2 linked regions of the Homo sapiens genome follow. The protein of the gene in region 2 interacts with the protein of the main gene of each other region in a pairwise test. Each region holds a gene or a part of one and is shown on either strand. Other genes may lie near its edges. The genes, in order: VPS41 and VIPAS39.

Evidence for each region.
Region 1: the proteins of VIPAS39 (region 2) and VPS41 interact in binary tests that used the Homo sapiens proteins (3 or more experiments, as listed by UniProt).

Annotation. Positions count from the first base shown.
Region 1 is NC_000007.14:38,894,078-38,906,191, forward strand, and holds part of VPS41 (vacuolar protein sorting-associated protein 41 homolog), read right to left. Parts: intron 4,053-12,114; coding exon 4,014-4,052; intron 1-4,013. UniProt on the Homo sapiens protein: Plays a role in vesicle-mediated protein trafficking to lysosomal compartments including the endocytic membrane transport and autophagic pathways. Acts as a component of the HOPS endosomal tethering complex.
Region 2 is NC_000014.9:77,437,676-77,449,789, forward strand, and holds part of VIPAS39 (spermatogenesis-defective protein 39 homolog), read right to left. Parts: intron 12,078-12,114; coding exon 12,039-12,077; intron 11,683-12,038; coding exon 11,618-11,682; intron 10,876-11,617; coding exon 10,819-10,875; intron 6,667-10,818; coding exon 6,574-6,666; intron 5,478-6,573; coding exon 5,444-5,477; intron 4,988-5,443; coding exon 4,885-4,987; intron 3,419-4,884; coding exon 3,391-3,418; intron 207-3,390; coding exon 133-206; intron 1-132.

The sequences.
Region 1 (12,114 bases), on a different chromosome or scaffold from region 2:
CCTAGCACTTGAATAAGGAAAAGGTAGAAATATATAAGGAAAATGCCTGTCCTTCAAAAAAAGTTTAACAGTTACAAAACACGAGAAGAGATGATAGAGAACGAAGAGAAATGGATGAAGGAGGAATCTCTGGTGGACTGAGTGGTGTCTCAAAATATCGCTCCTGGAACTGGAAAGTGATTCAAACTGAGTAAAAAAACTCCAAAGTCTTCAAAGGCTCAACTGCAAACAGGCTTACTACACTTACAAGGCCTAAACCTGGTCCATCAACATCCTGACTACTTTGCTGGTCCATAAACTCAGTAGAATCAGTAATATCTAGGAGAGTAACTGTTTTCATAGAGCTAGAGGCAGCGGGGGGCACGGAGGCTAGGGTTGGGGGGAAGTGGGGGAGGAATCTCTCTAAGCCCTCAGGTTGAAGCACCAAGCTGGAAAATGAGCCACCATGACAATATCTAAAATATAAACTGAAGGTCATTAATATTTAGCAAGTGCTTCCCATGTGCTAGGCTCTATATAAGATGCTTTATGAACATTAATCGTATCTATCTTCACAGCAACCATACAAGGCAAGCAACAAGACCCATTTTTCACACGAGGAAACTGAAGAATACAGGAGGTAAGTGCTATGCCCAGGTCATACAAAAAGCACAAGGTATGGCCATGATACAAATGAGGGTCCACCTCCAGTTCTTTAGCACTATCCCAAGCAGTAGGCACTGGAGGCTAGACAGCAAGAAAATGGAAAGAGCCCAGAGTTGGAACCCCTTTCTCCTCCTCATCAGCTGTAGGACATTAGGCAATCAAGCCACATTTGGGTCTCACTTTCCTCAATCTTAAAATAACTACCTTTTCCTTCCATTTATCTCCTCAGTTTGGCCAAGTCTCATTCCCTAACTTCCTAGTTTCTTTGTCCATTTCTAATATAGTTTTTAAATATCTGATTTAAGGTACTTTACTGTGGCCAGGCACGGTGGCTCACGCCTATAATCCCAACACTTTGGGAGGCTGAGGCAGGCAGATCACTTGAGGCCAGGAGTTTGACACCTGCTTGGCCAACATGGCAAAACCCCATCTCTACTAAAAACACAAAAGTGAACTGGGCGTGTTGGTGCACACCTGTAATCACAGCTACTCAGGAGCCTGAAGCATGAGAATCGCTTGAACCTGGGAGGTGGAGGTTGCAGTGAGCCGAGATCGTGCCACTGCACTCCAGTCTTGGTGACAAAGCAAGACTTTGTCTAAAAAAAAATAAAAATAAAAAAATAAAAAAAACAAACCACGTTAAGGTAGTTTATTGTATCTGCAAATGCTTGTTTATAGACATTCAACTCATGATGGAGTGTTATGTTATTGTTTTCTGCTACTGAAACCTCTGATTCTGACTTTCTTTCTTCCTATAGTAGCTTTTTATGGATGTTACTTGTCATTTCAATTCATTTTTAAATGTCTTGGATTTTCCTGGATAGCAGTAACAGACGTTACCAGGGAAGAAGGGGTGAAGCATCTGTGTGGTTTACCAGGTTTCTGCATTTTCTTTTCTAGGAGGCATCTTTTTTTGGTGAGTAGGTAAGTCTCCTGATCTGATGATGTTCTTTGTTTCTGGGCACCCTTAATTTCCTCTGCTTTGTCCTTTTCTTTCACTGCCAAGCCGCTAAGGATGCCTCCCCCATCTCTGCCAAAAGCAGCACCATCCAACTCTTGTCACCTAAAGCCCTATACACTTTCAAGCTCCTTTCTTTAAATTCTCGAAATCCACCAAGTCTCACATCTGTTCTCAGATCTCCCCACTAAGAATGGGGCCCCCTTCTCACTAAGATGATTTTTATGTGCATTCTGCCTCGGCTGGGTCTCAGCTGTACTCTCTTTATTTCTACCCAGTCTCCATCTGACTGTCAGCTCCAGCGTCAACTCCAGAGCCGACTCTGCTGGCTTTGGATGTTTATTTTCCCACTTGCACTGAAGTTTGTATTACTCCCCATTTGCTAATTATACTAGAGGCCTAGATTGTGTGTGCTTTTATTTACTCTTTGTTGAGCTGTTTAGTATTTGGAGCATGTGTGGAAAGATTTAGATTTAGGTGGCTGCCAACACCCTCCTCACCTGCAAAATGAAATTCCTCAACAGAGTTCCAGCACTGTCTGATTCTGTACCAATGATTCTAAGAACACTGGAATCTTAGTTAATTAGAGATTTCCAAAATAAGGTAACCTAAAATGCTTTTCAATACTGTATGAGAAATTAACAAATATACCCTATCTATAAGCAAACTCAGAAATGCCTTACCAGAAGCCCCACAGTAATGGAAATCCTTATTAATGAAAATGTTAGAAACCATGACTACACAATGACATAATACATAACAAGCTTGTCCAACCCATGGCCCGCAGGCCACATATGGCCTAGGATGGCTTTGAATGCAGCTCAACACAAATTCATAAACTTTCTTAAAACACTGTTTGATTTTCTGCTGCAATTTTTTTTAGCTCATCAGCTATTGTTAGTGTATTTTATGTGTGGCCCAAGACAATTCTTCTTCCAATGTGACCCGGGGAGCCAAAAGATTGGACATCCCTGATATATAATCTGTTCTCTAGAGAAATATGCATAAGTCCAACTTTTCCCTGGAAAAGCAACAAAATTCACATAAGCTTATGCAGTATCAACCCAAATGTAATAGATTATCATGGCTAGAGTCATATCAGTGTGTATTTCTAGCAGGTTATCACAGATACATTTTCATTCCTCTGAGCGAAATGAAATATTAAAAGGAAAAATGTAATTCTTCTTATGAGTCCATCTATAAAATTGATAAGCCAATTACATTATGCTTGGGCCAGGTGCAGTGACTCATGCCTATAATCCCAGCACTTTGGGAGGCCAAGGCAGGCGGATCACCTGAGGTCAAGAGTTTGAGAGCAGCCTGGCCAACATGGTGAAACCCTGTCTCTACTAAAAATACAAAAATTATCTGGGCATGGTGGTGGGCGCCTGTAATCCCAGCTACTCGGGAGGCTGAGGCTGGAGAATCACTTGAACCCAGGAGATAGAGGTTATAGTGAGCCCAGACTGCACCATTGCACTCTAGCCTAGGTGACAAGAGTGAAACTCTGTCTCAAAAAAAAAAAAAAAAAAATTTATATTATGCTTAAACATTTCTTATGCAGACTTGAAAATAAATTTTTTAAAAACTCCTTCCTTATATATTATTCTCCTTAAGAAACTATCTTTATCACAATAACCTAACAACTTTTAAAGTAGCTCCCTTTTTAAGAAGCAAACTCCAGGCCGGGCGCGGTGGCTCACGCCTGTAATCCCAGCACTTTGGGAGGCAGAGGCGGGTGGATCACAAGGTCAGGAGATCAAGACCATCCTGGCTAACACGGTGAAACCCTGCCTCTACTAAAAATACAAAAAATTAGCTGGGCGTGGCGGCGGGCGCCTGTAGTCCCAGTTACTCAGGAGGCTGAGGCAGGAGAATGGTGTGAACCTGGGAGACGGAGCCTGCAGTGAGCCGAGATGGAGCCACTACACTCCAGCCTGGGCAACAGAGCGAGACTCCGTCTCAAAAAAAAAAAAAAAAAAGAAGCAAACTCCAATTTCAATGATTCAAAAATTATACCAACAAACATGTCACATTCATTAAAAGAACAAATAAAGAATAAACATCATAAAACCTACAGTGGCTATTTTTAAAAAGCAGGTGAGGGGGATGTTAAAGTGTTGAGATAAATTTCTAAAACTTTGTATCAATTTTCCAACTGCCAACATGTTTCAAGTTAAAATATTGTTTCAGATGAAAACTTTTTGTTCCTTTTCTTATTTTTTAAGCTAATCCATTTAATCTTTTTTAAGATAGCTGGCATATTAAAAGCTCTTCCCCAAGGCTTAGTTACCTATCGCCCTGCTTTACACCCTCAGCCCCTGGGAATGTTGCATTTAGCAAAGAAGCGCAACTCAAGAGAACAACGTGGTGAGCTACAAATCCGAGGGCTCCTGAGTCACCACCTTACCTCAGACTCATCTGTAGATTCTTCAAGGGACCCAGTTTCCTATAAAGCATAGAAAAAGAAAATGGTCAGAAGAGATGATAAAAGAATAATCATTTGCAAGGGGAAAGAGTCCTCATGTTCCTACTACCACGCATCTGCCCTTTTTGGAAGAGAATCTACAACTATACTTTAGAGGACCACATGCTCTGACTTTCACATGTCTCCTGCAACTTCTCCACACCCTGGCAGGCAGATCCTGCTGCTCTCCCTCAAAGAGTTAACAGGTAAACAAATTACCCCAGGAACTTATCATCTGAGGGCCTGGAAGACTCTCTCCCTTGTTAATAATGGAAACCCATCTGGCAAAGCAGCCTCACTAATCTCAGAAGGGAAGAGGAAACTGCCATCTCATGTTATCTACAAGCCAATTTTTATACTGAAAAGTTCTTGTGCTATTAATTATCATGCTATTAATCTGGTTGAGTTAAAATGACTGTCTTGCTAAAATAGCTTTTTAAAAGAATCTCCTACAGTGGTACCTATCAGACCCTGTGTAAACAAGCTGTATAATTTACATGCACTCTTTAAACCATCACCACTAAGACAAATTCTGCCATTTAACACAGTTTCCCTCTCGCTAGACAATGAATCTTGCTGCTCTGAAGGAAACAAAGCAAAAAGGGAAAAATTGACTTGATCCTGCTAATCTCTCACCTGTCCAGTGAAAGAGAGAATCTGCTGATGCCATGCATCCTCAAAGAGGTCAGCAAAATGAAGATTTACTTAACGTACTTATAGATATCAATAGCAATAAAAGGTTACAACTAATATGCTGACACTGAATGTAAGCACTTTACAACAATCCATGAGATAAACAAAGAACAAGAAAAAAATGGGGCAAGGACATTTTAGATATAACTAATACATTTTCAAGAAAAAAATGAACATTTTAAGGAAGATCGATGCATATATTACTCAATACAAGTTGGACAGCGGGATAAATGTAAATCTAGTGTTTAAAATCATTTTAATTTCATTCATCAAAAATTAGCAAGAGCCTGACAGGTGGCAGGCACCTTCCAAAGTACAGCCTGGAGGACAACACAGTCCTTGCCTTCAAAGGCCATGGGTAAAATGGGGATATGTTCCTTGTAATTAAGAATTTTATTATACTTGTATCATTAACCACAATGAATATTAGAATCTCCTCTGTAACTCAATGCAGCCTGTTTAGCTTAATGTCAATCCAAGTCTCATAAAGTTCTTATTCATTTGAAGCTACAATAATCCACAGTAACATTTTTGTTCTTAGCACTACATAAAAAAAACAATTATTGCACTACATGATAGCTGTCCAGAGAGTTAATGACATGTATCATGTTCCACCTTCTAAAATGTTTCTCCTCTGCACTCACCATCACAGTTCCTGGTTTTAGTCCTCTTACTGTACTGATCCTTCTCTTGTGGACATAGTCCACTTTAACATTAACAATCACTATTCTGACTTCTTTACTGAACATCTATTATAAACTGCTCATTATGTTCCATTCACCACCCACAACATTATAAACTTTCCTAACACCACTGGGGTTGGAAGAGTGAGGCTTAGAGGTTGAGTTTAATGACTTCTAACATCCTTTCCATCTCTGTGAGTCGCTGAATATTATGTTATTAGCATCAGCAATACAAGGCTTTGATAACTATGCCAATAAACCACACTTAAGATTCCTATTTCCTGTATGTACAGTTCTAAAAAGACACTTGAGTACTCTTTCAGGAAAATCACATTAAACCTAAGGAAATTTTTTTTTCCTCATATAGAATCCACTCAAGTATGCACATGAGGTAAATGGGTGAATACCCCATTTATGTTCTTCATTAAAACAAAAACATCTGGGCTGGGCACAGTGGCTCACGCCCGTAATCCCAGCATTTTGGGAGGCCGAGGCAGGTGGATCACCTGAGGTAAGGAGTTCAAGACCAGACTGGCCAACATGGTGAAACCTCATCTCTAGAAAAAATGAAAAGAAAATTAGCTAGGTGTGGTGGCATGCACCTGTAGTCCCAGCTACTTGGGAGGACCACTTGAACCCGGAAGAATCACTCGAGCCCAGCAGGTCAAGGCTGCAGTGAGCTGTGATTGCGTCACTGCGTTCCAGCCTGAGGAACAGAGTAAGACACTGTCTCGATTAAAACAAAACAAAACAAAACAAAATTATCTTAAGTGAAACAACTCAGAAACAGTCAAATATGCATGTTCTTACTTATAAGTAGAAGCTAAATAATGTGTACACGTGGACAAAGAGTAGAGAATGGCAGACCACGGAGACTGGGAAGGGTAGATGATGAGAAAATTATTTAATGGATACAATATATATTATTCAGGTGACAGTGACACTAAAATCCCAGAGTTCACCACTATGCAATATATGTAACAAAATTGCACCTGTACCCATTAAATGTATGTAAATTAAAAAAGAAAAAACAGAAGTCTCCAACCAGCAATTTCAATCCAAAAACTCAAAATCAAATTACACTCTTTCTCCACACCAGAAAGCATGCAGTGCCAGAATTTGACACCGTGAGGCAGGAAGATCTGAGACCTGAATCTTCAGGGAAAACTGGGCTCTGAGAGTAGCTTCTTTGGCTATGGAATTGATGGAGAACATTTACTCTAGGAAACTCTGAGACTTGCCTTCAGCACCACTACGAACATCTCACACAGACAGGCGATCTCAAAAAAAACTTGTTTCCACAATCCTACCAAAGCAATGCATGAGTGATGTCAAGAATTAGGCTGGTCTGTTATTTCTTAGCTTCATTCATTCATCAAGCCCTCTAATTAATATGCTAGAGAGAGAAAGGCAAAGAAGACGTAAAGTAAATGTCCTCATTAAGAAATCCAAGAAGGCTGAACTTTGAGAAAGGTAACAATTTGAGAATGAGTCAGTGGTTTTCAAACTTTTTTTTTAGCTTCACACTCTCATTTAAAGAATCTAACTTCAAATCCTGAAATGTAAGTTATAAATTATGCTGTTTTCAAAGTGAAATAAGCAAGACACAAAAGGACAAATATTGCATGATTCCACTTATATAACACAGAAGTAAAACAGAGGTTACCAAAGGCAGAGGGAGGATGTAGTGGGGAGTTACTGTTAAATGGGTACAGAGTTTCAGTTTGTGATGATTAAAAGTTCTAGAGAGGCAGAGTGGTTGTCTTAGTACATTTGTGTTGCTCTAAAGGAATACCTAACTAAGGCGGGTTAATTTATAAAGAAAAGAGCGTTATTTGGCTCACGGTTCTGCAGTCTGTACCAGAAGCACGGCACCAGCATCTGCTTCTGATGAGGGCCTCAGGCTGCTTCTACTCATGGCAGTAGGTTGAAGGGTAGCTGGCATATGCAGAGATCACATGGCAAGACAGGAAGCAAAAGAGGGCAATGGGGAGGTGCCAGGCTCTTTTTAACAACCAGCTCTCTTGGGAACTAATAGAAAGAGAACTCACTATTTCAAGGATGGGACCAAGCCATCGTGAGAGATCTGCCCCCATTAGATCTCCCACCTCTAATACTGGGGAACATGAGATTTTAGGTGGACAAACATCACAACTACAGCAGTGGTGATGGTTGCACAACAATGTGAGTGTATTTAATGCCACTGAATCATACACTTAAAAATGGTTAAGGTGGGGGTGGCTCACACCTGTAATCCCAGCACTTTGGGAGGCTAAGGCAAGAGGATTGCTTAAGGCCAGGGAATTTGAGACCAGTGTGGGCAACACAGAAAGATCCTGTCTCTACAAAAAAAAATGTTTTCAACTTTTTTAATGGTTAAAATGGTAATTTTATGCTATGTGTATTTTACTATAATAAAGTGCTGTTGATCAAAGCAAAAGTGATAGGCTGGAAGATACCCAGTGACACAAATGTCTATCTGAGCCAATTCTGGGTAACGGATTGACAGTTAAACTCAGAAACATTTCATTTTACCTTTCTTTTGCAAACCAATCCCTTAAGCCCAACCACCTACCCAAACAGCTTTACTGTGTGATTTCTGTGCCTTGACATGTGGCCTCTCTAATGTACTCATCACCTGCCATCAGGATTATCTTCCCAAAGCACAGACCAGACGGCCACTGCCCTCCTCAAACAACCCTCAGTAGTGCTCCAGCCTGAAGAATAGCTTTCAGATTCCCCAGCAAAGTAGTCAAAGTCCTTCCCAGTCTGGCCCCCAACAGACCTTTAGCCTCACTCCCCACTCTCTCCACAAACCTGTGACCCTCCAGCCACACTGGAGGACCCCTCGCCGAGATATTGCTTATATCTCTGTGCCACAAGTGGCAAATCAGTGGCCTGGGGTCTGGATATGGCCTGCAGGTGTTTTGTTTGGCCTAGGTGGTGTTTTTAAAAAAGCTTCCATATAAAAACCTGTACTCCTGACTGTATGTCTACATAAGATCCACACTTCCACATACCATCAGTTGCAGCTGAGCGGTTACACCCAGGACAGAATGCACTCCACCACCCCCACCACTCCCAATTTCTGACACCAAGGCACGCCTGCTCATGTGCACCACCCCCTGCCTGCCTGAGTTTGTGCTGCCTGCTCTGCACTTTCCTCATGTCACTCCCTCCATTTAGAAGGCCCCTGGCCCCATCCTGCACTCATCCTGATGGAATGCTCTACAGGCTCAGTGGGTCTCTCAGGGATACCCCAGGGAGAGGTTGCCAGGCACTCAGCCTGAGGACATTCACTCTCTCTTCAATATCAGAGCTTGGTTTTTACGTTTCTTCCCGTACCCCTCAGCTAGCACCTAATATTAACTGCCTTGTCCTACAAGTTCTCATTTTAAATATGCTGTGGATAAACCCAAAGGCTTTGCCTTCTTTGTCTCCCAGTATCCTACTGGAAAAACATGTTGCTGGTGATGATGATGAGACAAGCTGCCAATCTAAAACAAATTCTTCCTCCTCCATATGTTGCCTTTCCCTTATGAGCAATACCAAGCATATTTTCTCCAGACTCATGTCTGAATTATTAGCTTATGAACTGTAGGACAGTTACAGAAAGGGAACTGCAGGAAGGTAGCACCTTCCAACAAATGCAGCAATTCCAACAATTCCTTGGGCTCCTAGAAGACTTCTCTCATACAGGCTTTCAACCAGCCCCCATCCCTAATCCTCCCATCAGCATAGAACCCTATGACAATGGCCTGGGAGAAGGCTTGGCCCAGCTGGCCTCAGAGGTCAGGAGTGGTGAAAAGGAAGACTGTCAGCCCAGGACAGAGAGGATCCAGGACTTGCCTGGGTTGTGAAGTCCTCAGAATTGTAAGTGCCCACATACTGTTGGGGAAGAAAAACAGAATTTGGGGGAGAAATGGTAGCCTGGGGCCTAAGGAAGGCCACTCCAAACTTTGCAGGAGGGCTCACCTGGGTCTGTGTTGCAGGAAAAAAAAGAGCAGAGACCAGGCTCCAAGAAATCATCTATCTCCATCTATGCCTGGAGGTACATGTGAACACTCACTGAGGTACTGCCACCTTCTCTGTCTTCCCAACAAACTATGCGCCCTAGCTGAGCATAATGAGAAAGAGAGTTCTGATATAGGCACTGTCTGATATAGGCACAGGAAGGAGGAAATATTTTGTGTGGTATGTATGTGATATCCCTGTTGTCACAGAGCTTCAATTTAAAAAACCTCAAAGGAGTTGTGGCCAGCTTTAGACACTCAGGGACTAGGCTGGTTGAGTAGTAAAGATGAGGACTCAGGTTACCAAGCCCATTCAGCCTACTGGGCTCAGCTACTGCACTCATCTTATTCTGCAAATGAAGAAAAATCTTGACGTGTGCCCCAGCGTGGAAAAGAGGGCAAACTTGGTAACCAGGTGACCCAGTCCCAAATCTGCCTTTGCATGAGAATCATCAAAACTCAGTTTGGGGAATTAGCTAATACCCACTAACACACTCCATCTGCACAGACTCTGATTCAGTAGGTTTAAAATAAGAGCCTGGAATCACAAGCCATTTTTAACAAAAACAAAAACAAAAAAACCATAAGGAGGCCCAGGCATCAAGAAGAAACAAAGGCAACAGGGGACTGCACAGCCATGAATGGGAAGTAGCATGAGACACAGAAGCCCCTGATCTGATGAGTGTCCTCTCTCCAAGGTGTTAATGTGGGCGCGGCGGAGGCTACTAATAATCAGCTAGTGAAGTGGCCTCTAGCCGACCAATTCAGGTGAAGATAAGTGGAAAAACTAACAAAGCAATCCGCTAGTCCAGCAAAACTAATCTGTGACTACATTTTAGTTACATGATGGGAAAGAGTGCACCCTCTAAAATCTGTCTGATTCTATACTTTTAAAACTTCTTGTTTGGGTTTTGTTTTTCCTTTAGTTAGTAGTAACACTGCCTTTAAAATATCTATCTTAGCCAAACTGTAAGAAAAGAGAATTGTGCATACGTAAGCCAAGTCCAGGTTTCGATGATTAACCTCTGTCTTATTTATACAACCATTTCAACCTAGCCACTTTAACATACTTTATATTCACAAAAGTTTTAACATACTTCATACTCACAAAAGTTTTAGAGAGTAAAATTCCCAGTTACAGGCAAGAAAATCGAAGCACTCAAATTTGTATTGATTTGATTTTTATTGTAACATAATCACATGGGGATATACATGACAAATATGACATCTAATAATCCATAAGTGATCTACAATAAGGACAGAATTCCCCTAATTTCTAAAATGCAGAAGGAGAATTCAAAGTAGAAACTCTCCTACTTGATTAAGAAATAGATGGTCTAATCGTGGAAATACTTTAATGGACCAGGGTCCAGGTTGGTTGATTAGGAAGATCAAAGGGTACCTGGGGAGCAGGCAAGAGTAAAGAAAGTATAGAATGTAACCTACATTATAGTATAGATGTAATCCACATTACATCTGAATTAATAACTTAAAAAAGGTGCAAGTAAGATAAAATAATTTCACGCAAATCCTACTAATATACAATTTGACAATTTGAAATGCTATTTTCCCCCTAATAAATTCATTTAAACACTTTACTAAACACTTAGTACCTATAAAGCACTAGCCCTGTGGAAGATACAGACATGAGTAAGTTCTTGTTCTTATTCTTGAGGACTCAGCAATCTCTAGGAGAGATAAGACAAATACACAAACAACCAGACTTCAAGCAGAATGTTATTCATAAGAAAGATATGGACAAATACTGTTGGGCATCTGTGAATATGAAGGTCAACTATAAATCGTTTTGGAGCTAAGCAAAACTGCTGGTTAGAAGATTTCCAGGCAGAATGCAGGGTATTCATTTTTTCTGTAAACTATAAAATATATATGTAGTTACTTTTGACAACTACCTTTACCATATTAGGCAAAAGCAAGAATTTCCCAGTGACTTATAAAAAAATTTTCATTCATACCTAAAAAGTGGTTTTAGTTTCAGATCCTCTGAGCTGTTTTATACCACAATAACTCAGTGCAGATGTCACTATTTTGGTTCTTCTGAAAATAAATGGGGAGGGGAGCAATCACCAAAGAAACAACACTCACGAAAGATAATGTGGAGACATTTAGTTTTGTGTTGCTAATCCTGGAGATTACTGGCATTTATGATACATGATACCAAGAAAAAAATGTATGCCAAGTTTTCTAAAAAGTTCAATAGAACAGTTATTTTCTCCATTTTTGGGGGTTTTTTTGTTGTTGTTGTTTGTTTTTGAGATGGAGTCTCCCTCTTGTCACCCAGGCTGGAGTGCAATGGCACAATCTCGGCTCACTGCAACCTCTGCCTCCTGGGTTCAAGTGATTCTCCTGCCTCAGCCTCCCGAGTAGCTGGGATTACAGGCGCCCACCACCATGCCTGACTAATTTTTTTGTATTTTTAGTAGTGACGGGGTTTCACCATGTTGGCCCGTCTGGTCTCGAACTCCTGACCTCAGGTGATCCACCCGCCTCAGCCTCCCGAAGTGCTGGGATTACAGGCATGAGCCACCGCACGCAGCCCTATTTTCTCCATTTTTATACACTTTTAGCTTTAAAAAAATGGTATAATAAAGCCCTACTACCGTCATCAGATTTCAATGGCTTCCTACTGTGAAA
Region 2 (12,114 bases):
ACCCTGAATGATGCTGGTATGATTCATTGTTAGCCCTCCCCTTCCTGCCTATCCATTCCACCCTTTTTAATTTTCTTCATTCCTTCTGGGTAAAGGTATTTATACTTAAAATCATTTTTCCCCCATACTTACCCAACACAGGTTTTAAGAAATTCTTTTCGTTTGTCAGGGTCCTGAATGTTCAAATGCTCTCGATAATGAGATAGCTACAAAAAGCAGAAAAAGGCTTTGAGGTATTTTGTCTCCTTAGATGAGGGAGATAGCTGATTAACTGAACTTCCCATGCTTTAAAAAAACAAATTCTTCATTTCTGGGTATAGATGGTTATTGGAGGCGGGTGGGGGGATAGGCAAAGAGTGACTAAGTATCATTAGTAGGTTTATCTATAACTGCACTGTACGATACAATAGCCACTAGCTACAACTGTTTCTTTAAATTTAAATTAATTAATGTAAAAATTCACCTCCTTAGTTAACACTAACCACTTTTAAAGAACTCAACAGCTACATGTGACTAGGAGCTACTATATTGGACAACACAAATATGGAAAATTTTTTTTTTTTTTTTTTTGAGACGAAGTCTCACTCTTGTTGCCCAGGCTGGAGTGCAATGGCACAATCTCAGCTCATTGCAACCTCTGCCTCCCAGGTTCAAGCGATTCTCCTGCCTCAGCCTCCCAAGTAGCTGGGATTACAGGTGCCCACCACCATGCCTGGCTAATTTTTGTACTTTTAGTAGAGGCAGGGTTTCACTATGATGGCCAGGCTGGTCTCGAACTCCAGACCTCAGGTGACCTGCCCAACTTGGTCTCCCAGTGTGCTGGGATTACAGGCGTGAGCCACCACGCCCGGCCCAAATATGGAATATTTCTATCATTGTAGAAAGTTCTATTGGCCAGTGCTGACCTATAATGAAGCACTGAGTAGATAGAGTACCAAGCTTTACCTTTAAGTTTCACTTTAGCCTCAGTATTTAACCAAAAATGAATATTTTGCTTCAGCTTTAGATTTTGAAAAGTCCAAGAGCTAAATACCTATTTCAGTGTTATTTTTGGCATCCTTGACCATGTACATGATCAATGGTAGTATGATCATGTAAATATCTAACAATTAACATCAGTAATATAAATAGGGCATGTCATTCTGACTCACTGTTCATAAATATTCTCAGATTGAGCCAACAGATGTATACAAAAATGTAAATGTATATAAAAATGTAAATGTAAAAATGTAAATAACATAAGACAGAATAACAGAAATTACATATCATAATCCAATCTTCGTAAAATAGTTCATATAAAATAGTTGGTATACAATCATTCCTAATATTAAAGAAAGTAACCTTTAAGAGCTATAGTTAATTTTTTGTTATTCAATTCCATTTCATCCTTAGGTCTTTCAAGAAAAGTTCTACATGGGAAACCTTCATATTCTGTGGGCATACACTAAAAGTGTACTATCAGCTTTGCCACTTCCAAAGTTTACAAGGTTGAAAAACTCAAAATCTATATACAACAACATGCATGATAAATCATCTTCAATTCGAACATAATGAGTATAAAGAAAATAAAGTTTTAGATAAAAATGAGTTACCCAAAACACATTTATTCTCACTAATGAAAATCAAAACAAAAAACTTTATAAGAATGCTGTAAGAAGAAAAATCCTTATAGTTTTGAACTTACAGAGATTTAAAAATATAAACAAACAGCTTTTCAAATGATTACTACAGGCTGCCAATCATTTTTAGTTGATTAAGAAAATGGATTTTTCAGATTCTCTCATGCTTTGAATATTAAGTACAAGTTCCTTTCAGAAAACATGTTACTGAGCCAGGTGAGGTGGTTCACATCTGTAATCCCAGAACTTTGGGAGGCCAAGGTGGGAGGATAGCTTGAGGCTAGGAGTTCAAGACCAGCCTGGCAAACAAAGTGAGACCCCCGTCTCTACAAAAAGATTTTTAAAAATTAGTCAGGTGTGGTCGTGTGCACCTGTAGTCCCAGCTACTTGGGAGCCTAAGGCTTGAGCCAGGAATTGAGAGTCTGCAGTAAACTATATGATCACGCACCACTGTACTCCAGCCTGTCTCGAAAAAAAAAAACCATGTTTCTGAAAAGCATTTTCAGTATTATATATATAATTATGCTGTTCAAAGGTTAACAATATTTAATGTGCCAACTGAATGTCTGTATGGATATCACAAATGTGTTGTACAATAACTAAAAAAGCAATCCTGCCATCGACAGTGCTGAGAAATTCTTTGAGACAAGGTCTCATTCTTTCACCCAGACATGACCTCCCAGACTTAAGCGATTCTCCTACCTCAGCTTCCCAGGTAGCTGGGACTACAGGCATGCGCCACCATGCTTTGCTAATTTTTTAAATTTTTTTTTAGAGATGGGATCTCACTATGTTGCCCAGGCTGTTCTCTAACTCCTGGACTCTAGTGTTCCTCCCACCTCAGCCTCCCAAGTGCTGGCATTACAGGCATAAGCTACCGTGCTTGGCTGGAAATTCTTATTCCTGCCAAGTTTTTTTTTTTTTTTTTTAACATGAATTGCTGAAGTTTTAATAATACAACTGAGTTTTTGGTAAAATTTCAGATTTATTCTTGTATTCCAGGAGTTCATTCCATGATTGTGAAAATCTGCCAAAATTTAATCTTAACACCTGGCCATTGAATTCTCAGCCAAAACGTGTATTGGGTGTATCATCAACTTGACCTATCTTCCTTCTTGACCTATATCTGGTTTCTTATCCTCTTAGCCTTCAACATTTTCTTTGTGAGAAGCCAAAACCCCAAAACTCCTAACAACCAGGACCTGAAAACAACCGAAAAACAAATTACAAATTGACCAGGCCAATTTTCACATGTTTATTTTTTAAAATTTATTCATAAGCCCAACCAAAAGAGCATATAAAAAGAAAGAATACATCATTTGGATTAAGTTTTCAGGTTTTCCAGGTGCCTCTCTCTTCTGTATATAATCAATATCAAAGGAAATAGTTCAATCAGTCTGGGATCTTGGAGGCGGGGGTTTGGCTTAGATTTCTGGGTTCGTGAGACAGAGTCTCACTCTGTTGCCCAGGCTGGAGTGCAATGGCACGATCTCAGATCACTGCAACCTCCCCATCCCAGGTTCAAGCAATTCTCCTGCCTCAGCCTCCCAAGTAGCTGGGATTACAGGTGCGTGCCACCACACCCAGCTAATTTTGTATTTTTAGTAGAGACAGGGTTTCACCATGTTGGCCAGGCTGGTCTTGAACTCCTGACCTCAGGTGATCCACCCACCTCGGCCTCCCAAAGTGCTGGGATTACAGGCGTGAGCCACTGTGCCCAGCCTAGATTTCTGTTAAACAGGTACCCAACTGAAACAAAGGCCACACTTACCGCAAGCTCTTCTGTTCTATCTAGGAACCTGGGAAGAAGCAGAAGGGAGCAGGGCATTTGTATCTATTGATGTGTGGCAGTATAACCTCACAAAATCGAGTGCCTCCTCTAGGAGAAACACAATTCAAACTCATTTCCCTCTATACACAAGATAAATGGTTGATCAGATATCATTGTTCCCCTGGTCTCTCTGGCTGAACAAAAAGCAAGGACAAGAAGGTACTGCAAGGAACTAATAACTTTGTTAACAGTTCTGACAGGGAGGCTCAGAGCCACCTACTCTAGCCCACAGAAAACTTGGTTGTTGTTTTTTTTTTTCCTAAGATTAAAGCACTATTCTCTGTCAATACAATCTTGAAAACAGATTTTCTATATTGTTCTTTACTGTTTTCATGGACAGAGTACAATGTGTTTTGTCTCCCCCAGACCTTGGAGCACCAGGACTTTTGTCTTCTGATTCTTCTTTACTCTGAATAGACCACCATAATTAACATTACCATTTTGGCATGGAGGTGATGCCTGATAAAGCCCTGTTGGTTGGGAAAGAGTAAGGGAGGGAAGGAAGGAGGGAGGAAGCAGCCAGCCTCTGTGACCATGTCTTCTTTTGCAAATTCCTGGCTAACATCTGTAATCTTGACCCTAACCAGGTAACCTGCTTTTCCCCACCTCAGTCTTTTGGGGAGCTCATTGCTGTGCTGGAGTCACTGGATATCAGTCACCTTGGGCCACATGTCAGTCTAAACAGAGGTTCTAACCCTTTCTCTGACACTGAAGAAAAGACATCATGTGCACATATTTTAATCCAAAGGTGGGAAATAGTCCCCACTGACTGGAATTAGAGGGAAGAAAAACATGATAGAAGACCTCAGCCCTCTTTACCCCCAGCAGACATGCCTACCTCTCACCTATCAGAATCCTACCTAGTTTCATAGGCCCATGCAAATCCTAATCACTTCCATGAGGCTTTCCCTGGGTATCCTGACTGAAAATATTTTCTTCTTCTCTTCTACTGTACTTCCCACTGGTATCACTTAGAATCAAGTAATAAAAGATACCTTTATTCTAGGTCTTTTGTAAGAAAACACTTAATAAATACTAATACTACAAACTAGGTATTATGCTAAGTGCTGGCTCACATACTAGCCCTTCATCTTCATAATAACCCTGTGGGTAGGTGTCATCATCTCCATTTGATCGATGTGAAAAACTCATGAAGAGGGTTGATAACTTGGCCAAGGTCACTCAATGAATGATGTGGGAGACCTATAATAGCATTCAACCCAAGTGCATGTGACTCCAAAGCCTGGTTCTTAACCAACTTGCACCTTATCATAAGCTATGCTGTACTGCTAGTTATCCCCTCACACTTCAATAGCTTGTCTTCCAAGCACTTCCAGGAAAAGGGCAGTTGGCGTCTTCTATTCCTTTGTATCCCTCAGAGTGCTTTGAAACAAGTACTTACTAAACTTTATAGACCAGATGATCAGTTCTTACCTGAAGAGGTCTAAAAGCAACTTTTGATCCCCTATTTCCTTAAGGAAGTGAATAAGATGTCTCAGGGCAACCTGTCGCACCTCCAGCTCTCGGAAGAGGATCTCTGTCAGACAGTCAGGAGTTAAGTTGAGAAAGATTAAAGCCAATTAGTCAAGTGTGAAATTGGTCTCCCTACTCACACATTCCAAATATTATCTCATCAAACCCTAACAAAAGCTAAGAATGGTTTACCCCTATGTCTTAATTCACCATCAACACACTCAGCTCATAGCCATTAAATCAGCTTTTCATTTCACACCAACCCAAACAGCAGGCACTTAGCATGGACTCTGACTTCTTCAAACCAACACAGCCATCTGAGGGGGCTCTGTGGTTAATGTAGTCATCACCCTAAAGGACGCCCTCAGAGATGTGATTTGTGCTCTGAAGTCTCAGGCCACCCCACTTGTCTCTGAAATAGACTTGACTAATGAATTCTGGTATGAAAGGCACATGGCATTCTCCCCTCGAATGTGGCAGACACCTTGCTGACTGAAGATTTCCTGCAAGCCATTCTCACCTTTGCTCAGTGTCCTCTTCAGGAAAATCAGAACCTACAGGAAAAAAGAACAAAGACTGTGCAAACTTTCCAACACAGAGTCATGCCCTGAGCACTACAGACACGGGGCCAGCAACTCATTAGCAATCTCTGAAGGTATAGCCAACAGCTCTGTATGTGATGCAAGGAAAGCCAATGGCTATCTGGAACTGAGCTGTGTCTTGAGAGTCCACACACCCGTGCCCATGCTGCTGAGAGACACCTCCCTCTGAAAGAGGATACGCTCACATCTCTTCTCCCTCAGATTGTTTTATATAACACATAGTAGCCAACCTTGTGTGTCTTGGTTACAATCAACGGTTTCACATAGGCTGGGCATGGTGACTCATGCCCATAATTCCAACACTTTGGGAGGCTAAGGCAGGGAGATTACTTGAGCCCAGGAGTGTGAGATCAGCTTGGGCAACATAGCAAGACCCTGTCTCTACAAAAAAATTTAAAAATTAGCCAGGCAAGGCCAAGCGTGGTAGCTCACGCCTATAATCCCAGCTCTTTGGGAGGCCGAGGCTGGTGGATCACCTGAGGTCAGGAGTTTGAGACCAGCCCAGCCAATGTAGTGAAACCCCATATCTACTAAAAATACAAAAATTAGCTGGGCATGGTGGCCCACGCCTGTAATCCCAACTACTTGGGAGGCTGAGGCAGGAGTATCACACAGTGAGCCAAGATTGTCCTACTGCACACTAGCCTGGGCGACAGAGTGAGACTCCATCTCAAAAAAAAAAAAAAAAAAACTAGCCAGGAATGGTGGTATGCACCTGTGGTCCCAGCTACTCGGGGACCTGAGGTGAGAGGATCACTTAAGCTCAGGAGGTCGAGGCTACAGCGAGCCATCATCACACCACTGCACTTCAACCTGGGCAACAGAGCAAGACCCTGTCTCCAAAAAAAAAAAAAAACAGGGTTCCACGCTTAGTGCATGTGGCACCAGCTAAGCCCTTAAAGCACAGATTACTTAGAATCCTACACCTCCAAGGGGAATCCAGGATCTTTACTTAACATTTAACACAAAATGTTAGTCTATTTGATTGGATTTTCAGAAACTAGTGAAAACAATAATTAAACAAACAACAACAAATCCGACAACTCACTGCAGTAATGACGTTTCCATCATGCATGCTTACTGCCTCTTCTAGGAGTTGTAGTTTGTCCTGTAAGGAGCGGAATCTCTCTAGTGAGCAAACCTGGCAGAATAACACTAGAATTAGTACACAAGAAGACAGTTTTCTTTATTCCTTTGTTGCTGGATACTAAAGAATAAGCAATAATGAAACAAAATGTCCCCAAGGAGAGTCTCTTTATTTTTACCCTATGGTCCCCAGCACTTATAAAACAGTTGGCTCCCACCACCCTCTCTAGTTCAGCCTGCTGCCCTATAAGATGCTAATGTCCTGAAGTCTTGATAAAGTCAACAGAAATCACTTGTTCTTTTTGAGACGGAGTCTTGCTCTGTCACCCAGGCTGGAGTGCAGTGGCTCAATCTCGGCTCACTGCAAGCTCCGCCTCCCAGGTTCACACCATTCTCCTGCCTCAGCGTCCTAAGTAGCTGGGACTAGAGGTGCCCGCCACCATGCCCGGCTAATTTTTTTTTAGTAATTTAATTTTTAGTAGAGACGGGGTTTCACTGTGTTAGCCAGGATGGTCTCGATCTCCTGACCTCGTCATCCACCCACCTCAGCCTCCCAAAGTGCTGGGATTACAGGCATGAGCCACCGCGCCCAGCCAATCACTTGTTCTTTTTTAAGAACCCTTATTCATAATTTGCATACAGTAAAACATACCCTATTTAAGTATATAGTTCAGTGATTTTTTTTTTTTTGAGACGGAGTCTCGCTCTGTCGCCCAGGTTGGAGTGCAGTGGCGCAATCTTGGCTCACTGCAAGCCCCGCTTCCCGGGTTCACACCATTCTCCTGCCTCAGCCTCCCGAGTAGCTGGGACTATGGGCACCTGCCACCACACCCGGCTAATTTTTTTGTATTTTTAGTAGAGACAGGGTTTCACCATGTTAGCCAGGATGGTCTTGATCTCCTGACCCCGTGATCCACCTGCCTCAGCCTCCCAAGGTGCTGGGATTACAGGCGTGAGCCACCATGCCCAGCCAGTATCTCATAGTTTCAACTCACATTTTCTTGATAACTATAATTTTAAGTATCTTTTAAAGTGATTATTGGTCATTCATGTATCTTCTTTTGTGATGTGTCTGGTCAACTCTTGTGCCAATTTTTTTATCAGACTGTACTTATCACTAAGCTAAGAGTTTTGTTGTTGTTGTTGTTTTATCTGAGACAGGGTCTCACTGTATTGCCCAGGCTGGAGTGCAGTGGCATGATCATGGCTCAGTGCAGCCTCGACTTCCTGGGCTCAAGCAATCCTCCCACCTCAAGCCTCCTGAGTAGCTGGGACCATAGGTAAGTGCCATCACACCTGGCTAATTTTTATTTTGTAGAGATGGGGTCTTGCTATATTGCCAGGTTTAATAAAAGTTTTATATATATTCTGGCCAAGTACAGTGGCTCACGCATATAATCCCAGCACTTTGGGAGGCCAAGGCAGGCAGATCACCTGAGGTCAGGAGTTTGAGACCAGTCTGGCCAACATGGTGAAACCTCCTCTCTACTAAAAATACAAAAATTAGCCAGGCATGGTGGCACACACCTGTTAATTCCAGCTACTCAGGAGGCTGAAGCAGGAGAATCACTTGAACCTGGGAGGCGTAGGTTGCAGTGAGCTGAGATCGCACCACTGCACTCCAGCCCGGGCGACAGAAGGAGACTCCATCTCAAAAAAAAAAAAAAAAAGTTTTATATATATTCTGGATGAAAGTCCTTTATAATATACGTGTTTTGAAACTACTTTCTCTGAGCTATGGTGGTCCTTTCATGGCTTTAACAGTGGTTTCTAAAAAAAAAATAAAAGTTTTAAATTTTGATGAAGTCCATTTTATCAATTTTTTCATTTATGGTTCATGCTTTTTGTGTCCTAGGTAATAAATCTTTGCCTAAGTCAAGATCATAAAGATTTTCGTCTATATTTTCTTCTAGAAGTTTTATAGCTTTAACAATTAATTTACATTTAGGTCTATGATCCATTTTATTTATTCATTTTTTCATTCCCAATCCTTAGAACCTGTGAAGTATAATCCATTTTATCTGCTTTTTTTTTAGAGAGAGGGTCTCGCTCTCTCGCCCAGGTTGGAGTGCAGTGATGCAATCACAGCTCACTGCAGCCTCAGCCTCCAGGGCTCAACTGATCTTCCTGCCTCAGCCTCCTGAGTAGCTAGGATTATAGGCACAAGCCACCACACCTGGCATTATGATCCATTTTGATCCATTAATTATTATGATCATTGCCAATTCTACCAAAATTGATCTGTACATTCAAGGCAATCCCAATAAAAATCTCAACAACTCTTTTGTAGACACTGCCAAGGTGCTACTAAAATCGATATGGAAGTATAAAGGATCTAGAACAGCCAAAACAATTTTGGAAGAGAACAACATTGAAGGTTGAAAGCTTCAACAAAGTTGAAGTATCTTGATTTCAACATTTATATAATAATCAAGACTGTAGTATTAGCTTAAGGATAAATAATCCAATGAACTAGAATAAAGAGTCCAGAAATAGGCCTACACATATATGATCATTAATTTTCTTCTTATTTTTTTCTTCTTGAGACAGGGTCTTGCTCTGTTGCCTAAGCTGGAATGGAGTGGCACAATCTCGGCTCATTGCAGCCTCGACCTTCAGGGCTCAAGCAATCCTTCCATCTCAGCCTCTCAAGCAACTGTGACTAAAAACATATCCTGCTATAAGATTATAAGTTACATTTATATATTTATAATTATAAATTATAATATACATTTATATTATAAATTAGCCACACCTGGCTTTTTTTTTTTTAAGATGGAGTTCCGCTCTTGTTGCCCAGGCTGGAGTGCAATTGCACAATCTCGGCCACCAGGTTCAAACGATTCTCTTGCCTCAGCCTCCTGAGAAGCTGTGATTTACAGGCATGTGCCACCACGCCCAGCTAATTTTGTATTTTTAGTAGAGACGGGGTTTCTCCATGTTGGTCAGGCTGGTCTTAAACTCCCAACCTCAGGTGATCTGCCTGTCTTGGCCTTCCAAAGTGCTGGGATTACAGGCATGAACCACCGTGCCCGGCCGCACACCTGGCTAATTTTTTTTTTTTTATCATTTGTAGAGACACGGTCTCACTATGTTGCCCAGCCTAGTCTTGAACTCCTGGGCTCGACAGATCCTCCCACCTTGGCCTCCCCAAGTTCTGGGATTACAGGCATGAGCCACTGTGACTGGCCCGATTTTCAACAAAAGCATCAGCAGGATAATTCAATGGGGAAAGGATAGTTTTTTCAACAAATAGTGCTGGAACAAATGGAGATCTACATGGGGAAAACAATTAAACTCAAACCCTTACATCACACCATATGCAAAAATGAACTCAATGAATCACAGATCTAACATAAAAGATTGTTCTCACTCTCTTTTTTTGGGCAGGGGGGCGGAGTTTCACTCTTGTTGCCCAGGCTGGAGTGCAGTGGCACGATCTCAGCTCACTACAACCTCCACTTCCCAGATTCAAGTGATTCTCCTGCCTCAGCCTCCCGAGTAGCTGGGATTACAGGTGCACGCCACCACGCCCGCCTAATTTTTTGTATTTTTAGTAGAGATGGGGTTTCACCATGTTGGCCAGGCTGGTCTAGAACTCCTGACCTCAGGTGATCTGCCTGCCTTGGCCTCCCAAAGTGCTGGGATTACAGGCGTGAGCCACCATGCCCGGCTTCTCTTTTTTTTTTTTGAGACGGAGTCTCACTCACCAGGCTGAAATGCAGTGGTGCAATCTCAGCTCACTGCAACCTCCACCTCCTGGGTTCAAGTGATTCTCCTGCCTCAGCCTCCCGAGTAGCTGGGACTACAGGTGCCTGCCACCACACCCGGCTAATTTTTTATATTTTTAGTACAGATGGGGTTTCACCATGTTGGCCAGGATGGTCTTGATCTCTTGACCTCGTGATCCACCCTCCTCGGCCTCCCAAAGTGCTGGGATTACAGGCGTGAGCCACCACCCCTGGCCCTGGCCTCTCACTCTTAAATGTACTTTTCCCTCTCATCCATCACTCTTTCCCCACTACCCCATCAAAGCAACAGTAATGGAGAATCAGAAATTTTGCCACTGACTTTCAACCTTAGTGGATTTATTTTCCCCCTGAAATTCATTGAACAAATGAGAACTGAAGAGAGGTCAAGAAATCTTCCCTGTGTGAACAAGCTGCCCAGCTTCCCAAAGAACCTCACAAAAATTCTCTGTCCTTACCTTGCCCTTCCGGAGACGTCGCACTGTATCACTGGGGCTCCAGTCATTGCTGTAATCCTGGAATATTAGCAATACGTGAATCCCAGGAAGTTAAGGAATCAAATTTATCAGCATACCCGCTCCTCAACTCAAACTCAGTCTTAGTGTCTAAGGGGGAAATAATTTGTGGGAGGGAATGGATGTGAAAAAAATGAAGAAATGGGACGGTTTTGTTTTGAGTTTCTGAAGGAACTAGAGCAGGGGCAATATAGATAGGAGGAGATGGATCAAAGAGGGAGGAGCCAATTGACAAAGCCAGTAGCCCCATGCCTACCAGTTCAGGACTGCAACCTCTAGATGAATTAGAATCACGTTTTAGGATTCTAACAATTAATGCCTTTGGCCAACAGAAGGAAAGAGAGAGATGTTGGAGACATGTTCCTTTTCCGACCTTAGGATATGGTTTCTTCCTTATGAATCAATTTGCTTTATTTGTTTCATGGGAATATGAGCTCTACCAGGCTTCCAGACTGCAGTGATGATCACTGGGTTTCAAAGTACAGCCTTCAAGTGGGAGCATAATGAGTAAGCAAAGTATGGCAGAGCTGAGTCAGAATATAGAGATTATAAGTCTAAGTTGCACCCTTTCCCAGCTCTGAGACCCCAGGTAAGCCCTCATGTTTAGAAACCCAGTTTTCTAATCTATAAAACAGGGTTAAAAAAATATCTACTCAAATAGTTGGGAAAATCAAGCCAGGTAACATATGTCAAGGTACTTTATACTGTGGAAAGTGTCACACCAGTGTATGCTGTAACTCACCCTATACTCCCCTTTGGGTCTCCCCAGCTCTGGAGCATAGCTTTTGGCAGGTGTGTCTGACAGAGCTGAAAAAGAATAAGCAGCTGGTTCAGAAGGGCACCATGAATCCTGCTTGTCATTCCTTCCCTCTACTTCTTCGTTCTCACATTTTTTTGACTTGTGGGCTCCCAATGTTAACTTTATGGCCAAAAGCAGATCTCCGTTCTTCCCCAAAGACAGCATCCCTAGAAGTCACCTTTGCCCCTGTAGCTAGAATGATTTCTACCTCCTTAGTCAGTATCAGAAAATTCCTCTAATAATGACAGTAGATGCAGAAGAAAGTTCATCTTGTCATCTAATTACTACCTGTCCCCATAACTCCCCAGACTGTACCAGATCAGTAACATTTCCCACAGCAATTAAAAGAGGGTTCAATGCCTACCATCAGAAAGGGACTGGAAACTTCCAGGTCTAGTTCTACCTAAAGGTAAAGAACACAAGAGGGAAAAGGTCAACAG